Linked DNA regions of Homo sapiens: region 1 is linked to region 2. Evidence: fine-mapped QTL for protein levels in blood plasma. A gene starts in region 2. The other region holds a variant in brackets. All regions are shown on one strand. Distances are between the middles of the regions. Region 1 has its middle 87 kb from the start of MSTN. Region 2 holds the start of MSTN (myostatin).

Evidence for each region. PIP is the chance, under the fine-mapping model, that this variant and not a neighbour inherited with it causes the effect. The UK Biobank Pharma Proteomics Project read protein levels with antibody pairs (Olink). The fine-mapping took linkage between variants from a reference panel, not from the people measured, so its PIPs are less certain.
Region 1: its variant is fine-mapped to the plasma level of the MSTN protein (UK Biobank, PIP 0.95).

Annotation. Positions count from the first base shown.
Region 1 is chr2:189,972,794-189,978,175 of GRCh38, reverse strand. It overlaps a transcript of AKAP19 not described here. Among named protein-coding and RNA genes, the nearest start is that of MSTN, 87 kb to the left of the region's middle. The variant C/T (reference allele first, on the strand shown) is at 2,763.
Region 2 is chr2:190,059,731-190,065,112 of GRCh38, reverse strand. MSTN (myostatin) reads left to right here and starts at 2,384. Exons shown (of 3, transcript NM_005259.3): 1 at 2,384-2,889; 2 at 4,678-5,051. The coding sequence starts at 2,517. It also overlaps a transcript of AKAP19 not described here.

The sequences.
Region 1 (5,382 bases), 87 kb after region 2:
AGAAGCCCAAACCCCAAGCATTACACCATACACCCGTGTAACAAACCAGCACATGTACCTCTGAGTGTATTTTTTAAATGCATTTAATATGCTTAACCTATCAAATAGGATAGCTTAGCCTAGCCCACCTTAAACATGATCAGAACACTTAAATCAGGCTATGATTAGGCAAAATCTTCTAACACAAAACCTATTTTATAATAAAGTGTTGAACAGCTTATGTAATTTATTGAATATTGTACTGAAAGTGAAAAACAGAATGGTTGTATGAAGACTAGCAGTATGGTTTCTACTGAATGTGTACTGTTATGGCAAAAGTTGAAAATTTGTAATTCAAATCATTGTAAGTCAAGGACTTTGTAAATATGTGTATGTGTTTCCATAACCCTTAGCTTGTCAACTCTCTTTTTTAATATCTCCACAACTTCAAAATGTTCAAGTACCCCAAGATTCAGTCCAAGACCTCTTTTATTCTCTACCTACACCACTCCAGCAGTTACATCTTGTTTTATAGTTTTAAATATCATTTAGAAACATGTGACTACCAAAATTAAATTAAATTTATCTTCTAAATCCAGACCTGAGTGGTCAACTGCTTATCTCTTTGGGTGCCTAATAGGCATATCAGACACCATTTTTTAGAAAAACATCATTTTCAAGAACAGCATTCAATATTTGAAATTGTAATATCAGTCTGAGGTGACTTTATTCTAGGAAACCCTACTGGATGCCTGGAGCCAAAAGTAGATATTTGAATGAAAGTGATGGTTATCAAACTGAGTTTGTCTAAAGGAAAATATTCAATTATATTTCAACACCATAAGATGAAAAAGAAAAAAAGTAACTCACTTTGTAAGCTCTATTAGGGCAAGGAGAGTGGCTATGTTACTTACATTATATATTCAGCACAGTGACTGACATATAGAAGGCACTCAGGAACTATTTGCTAATTAAATGAACAAATTTGTACTAGCCTTTCAGTCTACTTTTGAAGATGAAATACTAATGTGGGATAAAAAGCAATTTATCAAGGAAGAAAACCAAATGGTTGGGGGCAGTTCCAAGATGGCCAAATAGGAACAGCTTCAGTCTACAGCTCCCAGCGTGAGCGATGCAGAGGACGGGTGATTTCTGCATTTCCAACTGGGGTAGCAGCTTCATCTCACTGGGGCTTGTTGGACAGTGGGTGCAGGACAGTGGGTGCAGCCCACCGAGTGTGAGCCAAAGCAGGGCAAGGCATCGCCTCACCCAGGAAGCACAAAGGGTCAGGGAATTCCCTTTCCTAGCCAAGGGAAGCTGTGACAGACGGCACCGGGAAAATTGGGTCACTCCCACCCTAATACTGCGCTTTTCCAACAATCTTAGTAAACGGCACACCAGGAGATTATATTCCGCACCTGGCTCAGAGTGTCCGAAGCCCACAGAGCCTCACTAATTGCTAGCACAGCAGACTGAAATTGAACTGCAAGGCAGCAGCGAGGCTGGGGGAGGGGCGCCCGCCATTGCTGAGGCTTGAGTAGGTAAACAAAGCAGCCAGGAAGCTCGAACTGGGTGGAACCCACCGCAGCTCAAGGAGGCCTGCCTGCCTCTGTAGACTCCACCTCAGGGGGCAGGAGATGGCCAAACAAAAGGCAGCAGAAACCTCTGCAGACTTAAATGTCCCTGTCTGACAGCTTTGAAGAGAGTAGTGGTTCTCCCAGCACGCAGCTGGAGATCTGAGAATGGTCAGACTGCCTCCTCAAGTGGGTCCCTGACCCCTGAAGAGCCTAATTGGGAGGCACCCCCCAGTAGGGGCAGACTAACACCTCACATGGCTGGTACCCCCCTGAGACGAAGCTTTCAGAGGAATGATCAGGCAGCAACATTTGCTGTTCAGCAATATTCGCTGTTCTGCAGCCTCTGCTGCCGATACTCAGGCAAACAGGGTCTGGAGTGGACCTCCAGCATACTCCAACAGGCCTGCAGTGGAGGATCCTGACTGTTAGAAGGAAAACTAACAAACAGAAAGGACATCCACACCAAAACCCCATCTGTACGTCACCATCATCAAAAACCAAAGGTAGATAAAACCACAAAGATGGGGAAAAAACAGAGCAGGAAGCTGAAATTCTAAAAATCAGAGCACCTCTCCCCCTCCAAGGAACGCCGCTTCTCACCAGCAATGGAACAAAGCTGGACGGAGAATGACTGACTAGTTGAGAGAAGAGGGCTTCAGACGATCAAACTTCTCTGAGCTAAAGGAGGAAGTCTGAACCCAACACAAAGAAGCTAAAAACCTTGAAAAAAGATTAGACGAATGGCTAACTAGAATAACCAGTGTACAGAAGTCCTTAAATGACCTGATGGAGCTGAAAACCATGGCACGAGAACTACTTGACGAATGCACAAGCTTCAGTAGCCGATTCGATCAACTGGAAGAAAGGGTATCAGTGACTGAAGATCAAATGAGTGAAATGAAGCGAGAAGAGAAGTCTAGAGAAAAAAAAGAGTAAAAAGAAATGAACAAAGCTTCCAAGATATATGGGACTATGTGAAAAGACCAAATCTACACCTGATTGGTGTACCTGAAAGTGATGGGGAGGATGGAACCAAGTTGGAAAACACTCTGCAGGATATCATCCAGGAGAACTTCCCCAACCTAGTAAGGCAGGCCAACATTCAAATTCAGGAAATACAGAGAACGCCACAAAGATACTCCTCGAGAAGAGCAACTCCAAGACACATAATTGTCAGATTCACCAAAGTTGAAATGAAGGAAAAAA[C/T]GTTAAGGGCAGCCAGAGAGAAAGGTCGGGTTACCCACAAAGGGAAGCCCATCAGACTAACAGGGGATCTCTCAGCAGAAACTCTACAAGCCAGAAGAGAGTGGGGGCCAATATTCAACATTCTTAAAGAAAAGAATTTTCAACCCAGAATTTCATATCCAGCCAAACTAAGCTTCATAAGTGAAGGAGAAATAAAATCCTTTACACACAAGCAAATGCTGAGAGATTTTTTCACCACCAGGCCTGCCCTACAAAAGTTCCTGAAGGAAGAACTAAACACGGAAAGGAACAACTGGTACCAGCCACTGCAAAAACATGCCAAATTGTAAAGACCATCAGTGCTAGGAAGAAACTGCATCTACTAACGAGCAAAATAACCAGCTAATATCATAATGACAGGATCAAATTCACACACAACAATATTAACTTTAAATGTAAATGGGCTAAATGCTCCAATTAAAAGACACAGACTGGCAAATTGGATAAAGAGTCAAGACCCATCAGTGTGCTGTATTCAGGAGACTCATCTCACGTGCAGAGATACACATAGGCTCAAAATAAAGGGATGGAGGAAGATCTACCAAGCAAATGGAAAACAAAAAAAGGCAGGGGTTGCAATCTTAGTCTCTGATAAAACAGACTTTAAACCAACAAAGATCAAAAGAGACAAAGAACACCATTACATAATGGTAAAGAGATCAATGCAACAAGAAGAACTATCCTAAATATGCATGCACCCAATACAGGAGCACCCAGATTCATAAAGCAAGTCCTTAGAGACCTAGAGACCAAAGAGACTTAGACTCCCACACAATAATAATGGGAGACTTTAACACCCCACTGCTAACATTAGACAGATCAACGAAACAGAAAGTTAAAAAGGATATCCAGGAATTGAACATAGCTCTGCACCAAGCAGACCTCATAGACTGCTACAGAACTCTCCACCCCAAATCAACAGAATATACATTCTTCTTAGCACCACATCACACTTATTCCAAAATTGACCACATAGTTGGAAGTAAAGCACTCCTCAGCAAATGTAAAAGAACAGAAATTATAACAAACTGTCTCTCAGATCACAGTGCAATCAAACTAGAACTCAGGATTAAGAAACTCACTCAAAACCGTTCAACTACATGGAAACTGAACAACCTGCTCCTGGATGACTACTGGGTCATAACGAAATGAGGGCAGAGATAAAGATGTTCTTTGAAACCAACGAGAACAAAGACACAACATACCAGAATCTCTGGGACACATTTAAAGCAGTGTGTAGAGGGAAATTTATAGCACTAAATGCCCACAAGAGAAAGCAGGAAAGATCTAAAATTGACACCCTAACATCACAATTAAAAGAACTAGAGAAGCAAGAAGAAACAAATTCAAAAGCTAGCAGAAGGCAAGAAATAACTAAGATCAGAGCAGAACTGAAGGAAATAGAGACACAAAAAAACCTTCAAAAAATCAATGAATCCAGGAGTTGGTTTTTTGAAAAGATCAACAAAATTGATAGACTGCTAGCAAGACTAATAAGAAAAGAGAGAGGAGTCAAATAGATGCAATAAAAAATGATAAAGGGGATATCACCACCAATCCCAAAGAAATACAAACTACCATCAGAGAATAATATAGACACCTCTATGCAAATAAACTAGAAAATCTAGAAGAAAGGGATAAATTCCTGGACACATACAACCTCCCAAGACTAAACCAGGAAGAAGTTGAATCCCTGAATAACCAATAACAGGCTCTGAAATTGAGGCAATACTTAATAGCCTACCAACCAAAAAAAGTCCAGGACCAGATGGATTCACAGCCAAATTCTACCAGAGGTACAAGGAGGAACTGGTACCACTCCTTCTGAAACTATTCCAATCAATAGAAAAAGAGGGAATCCTCCCTAACTCATTTTATGAGGCCAGCATCATCCTGATACCAAAGCCTGGCAGAGACACAACCAAAAAAGAGAATTTTAGACCAATATCCCTGATGAACATAGATGCAAAAATCCTCAATAAAATACTGGCAAACCGAATCCAGCAGCACATCAAAAAGTTTATCCACCATGATCAAGTGGCCTTCATCCCTGGGATGGAAGGCTGGTTCAACATACACAAATCAATAAACATAATCCAGCATATAAACAGAACTAAAGACAAAAAAACACATGATTATCTCAATAGATGCAGAAAAGGCCTTTGACAAAATTCAACAGCCCTTTATGCTAAAAACTCTCAATAAATTAGGTATTGATGGGATGTATCTCAAAATAATAAGAGCTATTTATGACAAACCCACAGCCAATATCATACTGAATGGGCAAAAACTGGAAGCATTCCCTTTGAAAACTAGCACAAGACAGGGATGCCCTCTCTCACCACTCCTATTCAACATAGTGTTGGAAGTTCTGGCCAGGGCAATCAGGCAAGAGAAAGAAATAAAGGATATTCAATTAGGAAAAGAGGAAGTCAAATTGTCCCTGTTTGCAGATGACATGATTGTATATTTAGAAAAGCCCATCATCTCAGCCCCAAATCTCCTTAAGCTGATAAGCAACTTTAGCAAGGTCTCAGGATACAAAATCAATGTGCAAAAATCACAAGCATTCTTATACACC
Region 2 (5,382 bases):
CGGGAAAAAGGGAATTTGTTTATAGTATGAGAGCTGAAACAAAAAGGCGGAACCCTGCCTTGTTTGACCTCATCTGGGAACCTGTGCGTCAGATAGGACTCAAATTTTTTGCCGCTCTGTGAATGCCAGCGAATGACTGAAAAATGCTAGGAATATTGAGTTTCATAGATAAATTTTAGCAAGTAGGCAAATTTGTGAATACAGAAATCATGAATAATAAGAATTGTCTGTTAGCGGAAATGACAACCTTTGTTCACTTTTTTCCAGGTGATAAGAATAAAGAGCTGGAACATGTCTTGTAACCTGGCTGCCTTAGAAAATTTTACTTGCCTCACAGGCCTAGAAAGTAGGCTTTGTGACTGATAATTGGCAGCTATGACCTGAAGCAGTTCTAGTTCATGTGGAGCATAATTTTAAGCATAATCTCAAACCCTTCTGCATAAAACAAAGAGCAAGCACTCAAATGCCAGTTATCAATTACTTACTATATGACAGGTGCCATATTCAGCAATTTACATGCATTATTAAATTATATCCCCCCAAAACCCTATGAGGAAGCTAAAGTTTAGGGAAGTTAAGTATCTCATCCATTATCACATAGTTAGAAGTGGCAAAGTTGAGATTTGAACTCAGGTCTATCTGACTCCAGAGCCTGAGTTCTCAATTCAACTGCTATACAATTCTAAGCATATTAAAAAAAAAGTTTGACTTACTTGGAACTGTATAGATGCATGTGTTACAATGATCATAACATTTGAAAGATTTACACATTGAAAAATGAATTTACCAAACAAATAAAACCTTAGAAGCCAGATCTAATATTGTCCCATAACAAAGAGTATCTGAAATCCTCAGGGCATCTGGTTTGTGTCTGGTTTTCCTTAATCTTTAATGATGAGCAAATCCAATGCATTATGTAAGGCCATTTTTTTCTCAAGAGATGTAGATACCTCTTAAGAATTTGATGAAAATGCATTAACTTTTCAGGCTACTGAGTTGCATTTTAGTGCACCGAGGCAGTAAATTAGTGTACAGTGTGCAAAAATGGTAGTGACTTTAAAAATAAATATTTGATATGAGCCACTGTATTCTCTTGGAAAAAAAAAGTAATGGACTAAATCTCTTAGGAATCCTTAGCTTCCCAAAAAGGAGTAGGAAAAAGAAATCTCCTTTGGCCTAGAAATATCTTCTGTTTCTTGCTGGCTATGTTTGCTTAGCTCTTTAATAGTTCATTTGACTAGATCTTGTGGCTCCCAAAGCTAAGGTTGAACGTTTGATCCCTACAGAGGCCACTTAAATTTAGAGAACAAAAAGCTCTATTCTCTGCTCCCAGACTTTACCCCAAATCCCTGCCAGGTGTCTGCCCTCTGGTCAAAATGAGAAATTGGCAAAGGGGTGCAAACATATCGCAGTATTGGGAAACAACAAAAGGTCACCCCTTTATCATGATGCTCTTTCTCTTTTATGTGCTCATAATATTCTGATATAATTTATAGAGAATAGATACTGCACTTTTTACTCTCTGGATATTTACTGCTGGAAATCTGAGGCAAACTGTAATAATCTCTGCCATGCCAGTTATAAAATTCATTATCTTAGTCTATGTTCAGAGATTTTTCTACTAGCTGGCATTACCCTCTTGGTAATAAACAATGAAAAACACATCTTCTGAGTTATGTTAATCTGCATCTTTAGAATAGGAAATAATAGCACTCAGTCAAAAGTTCAGTATAATTTTCATATTAATAAAAGACATGAAACTATGTAAAAATAATTCCATGCACAATATGTTATAATAACAATGACTTCCAATATTTACTAAGAATTTAGTCAGAAAACAAGTTTCTCAAATTATAGATGAAAATTCTCAACTAGTATCATAATCTTAACTTTTAATTCAGGTCTTCCTAATTTTTATTTTCCTAATTACTTGGCACTAAAAATAATTTAATACAACAAATAAAAATATTTTCTACTTCAAATACTTGCCTAAACAATATAAAATCATTTTAGTTTTTGAGGAAGTAATATTTCATATTTTAAATATGTAGTATAAATTAAAATTGACTTATTTAAATTACAATAAGAGTTGTGTGAGGATTAGTAAGATTTAAGTACAGTTTATATTATTGCCAACATAGACTTTTGTTTTTCAAATGTCACAAATATCTTTTATTATTTGTAGATTTATTTCTTTTATGAAGTAGTCAAATGAATCAGCTCACCCTTGACTGTAACAAAATACTGCTTGGTGACTTGGGACAGACAGGGTTTTAACCTCTGACAGCGAGATTCATTGTGGAGCAAGAGCCAATCATAGATCCTGACGACACTTGTCTCATCTAAGTTGGAATATAAAAAGCCACTTGGAATACAGTATAAAAGATTCACTGGTGTGGCAAGTTGTCTCTCAGACTGTACATGCATTAAAATTTTGCTTGGCATTACTCAAAAGCAAAAGAAAAGTAAAAGGAAGAAACAAGAACAAGAAAAAAGATTATATTGATTTTAAAATCATGCAAAAACTGCAACTCTGTGTTTATATTTACCTGTTTATGCTGATTGTTGCTGGTCCAGTGGATCTAAATGAGAACAGTGAGCAAAAAGAAAATGTGGAAAAAGAGGGGCTGTGTAATGCATGTACTTGGAGACAAAACACTAAATCTTCAAGAATAGAAGCCATTAAGATACAAATCCTCAGTAAACTTCGTCTGGAAACAGCTCCTAACATCAGCAAAGATGTTATAAGACAACTTTTACCCAAAGCTCCTCCACTCCGGGAACTGATTGATCAGTATGATGTCCAGAGGGATGACAGCAGCGATGGCTCTTTGGAAGATGACGATTATCACGCTACAACGGAAACAATCATTACCATGCCTACAGAGTGTAAGTAGTCCTATTAGTGTATATCAACAGTTCTGCTGACTGTTGTTCTAGTGTTTATGAGAAACAGATCTATTTTCAGGCTCTTTTAAACAAGCTGTTGGCCTGTATGTAAGTAGAAAGGAAAAGAGTTTCTCTTTTTCAAGATTGCATGAGAATATATTAATGAGACAAAAATCTGCTGCATTATTTGTTTTCTTATAGAGACAAAAAACTAAAAAATAAAGTACTTGCATAGCATTAATTTAATAAGGCAAATATAGATAGCATGCTTATGCTTTCACAATAATACCACCAAGGCAAGGACTGGGAGATACTACAAGCAGTGTTTAAAACTTACATTAGATTTTAGAATTGTATTTAGTTGTGTAAAATAAGTTTTTTTCACTAATAACAGAAAAAAAAAAAGAAACTTGCTGGATGTTTAAGCTTACTTGAGCACTGCTGAAAACCTCAAGTGATTTCTGTTATTTGAAACTCTCTCAGTAATTTTTTTGTTCTTCACAGTTAAAAATTTAATTTTGAGAGCTATTACACTGAAGAATATGCAAAAATTAAATATCTTAATGTGTTAGTAAGAACAATAATGAAGTAAACATAGCATAATAATCATCATGAACTAAATATTAGAAAATGCCTAAGAAATAAACATTTTAATTGGGTAGGTTATGGCTCACAAAGTCCTCCTTGTACCTTGACCATAGTACTATTATTGAGAGTACCCAGTTTGTGTACTTCCAAGCAGGCACAGTGCTTAATAACCTTCTAAAATATTTTATTCTTCCTGAGAGGGAGGGCTTTTACCTGTAGTATCTACACTGCTTCTGACAGATAACATATTTCATACAATTCCTTTTGCAGTCAGCTCAAAAGAATACTTTCTCCAGGAAAGAGAAACAGGCACCTTGACAGAGAAGGCATGGCAAGAAAAATTTTGTGTTACCTGTTATCTTGCTTTAATACAATGCTTTATATACTTTAAACAAGACTCCAAACAGTTTTAAAATATTATTTCCCTTATTAAGTAATCAGGTTACAATGCAGCAAAGAATTTCCATTTAAGACTCTGCTATCAAATAGGTCTGGAGCAGATTTACCTTTTATAGACAATTTTGGAAAACCAAAATAAAAGAAATTGTTAGTGCTTGTGCTTACATGACAGCCTGGCCCTAAAGACAATACTTTCGAACTTTTCAGATAGCCTGAATATAACATCAAAATTTTTGTGTTAATTATCTGCTTAGTTTTGCTCCTTTAAAAGGTTATTCCAAAGCCAAAATGTAACAGATGTACTGTGTTTTCTACTAATTCCTGAGGCTCAGTAAGTTGCTCAGTGTGTCTTGTCCCCAGGTAATTCAGGCCTGGGGGAAGGGTTCCTTCTTCCAGACTGATTGGTACAGCTGCTCAGTAAGTGTAACTACTCAGATTCCCAAAGAATTCTAAGTGGTTGTTCCTCCACAGTGTCTCTTGTTCTCTCTAATCATCATCATTTTAAAATTTCATTCAGCGTTCATTACTTCATAGAACCTTCCTTTGTCCATAGTTCTCTGGAAGGGGAATAGATTCCTGATGAACAGCTGAAAATACATACGTCTGAAAAATTCTGAAAAGCTAGGGTAATTATTTTCTTTGACATTTTTTTGAGTTATAAAGTTCCACACGGTATTTCATTTTAAAAGACTGCATAGGCATACATTATCTTAATTTAAAAAAATGCTCAACTATTAATATGGAGGGGTTTTGTTAATGGGAAATAATTTCAGCAACTTTTCTTTTCTTATTCATTTATAGCTGATTTTCTAATGCAAGTGGATGGAAAACCCAAATGTTGCTTCTTTAAATTTAGCTCTAAAATACAATACAATAAAGTAGTAAAGGCCCAACTATGGATATATTTGAGACCCGTCGAGACTCCTACAACAGTGTTTGTGCAAATCCTGAGACTCATCAAACCTATGAAAGACGGTACAAGGTATACTGGAATCCGATCTCTGAAACTTGACATGAACCCAGGCACTGGTATTTGGCAGAGCATTGATGTGAAGACAGTGTTGCAAAATTGGCTCAAACAACCTGAATCCAACTTAGGCATTGAAATAAAAGCTTTAGATGAGAATGGTCATGATCTTGCTGTAACCTTCCCAGGACCAGGAGAAGATGGGCTGGTAAGTGATAACTGAAAATAACATTATAATAACCTTATGTTTTTATTCATAATATGAACAAACAATAGTGGAAAATAGCTACAAATTCCCTAAGCTCATAAGCTAGACAAAGGTATCTTACCCCAACGGTAGCCCTGTACCCAATAAAAGTAGGTGTCCAATTTCATATCCTATGAAACACTCCCTTGATACTCTTACTTTGCATCAAGATTTTAGAAAACAATTATACCATACTTCTTAACTTCTTAAGAAGTCCTTTTGAATTGGGAATGAAATATAAAGTGCTTTTCATTAATATGATACATGACTGTATGTATTAAAATATTAACTC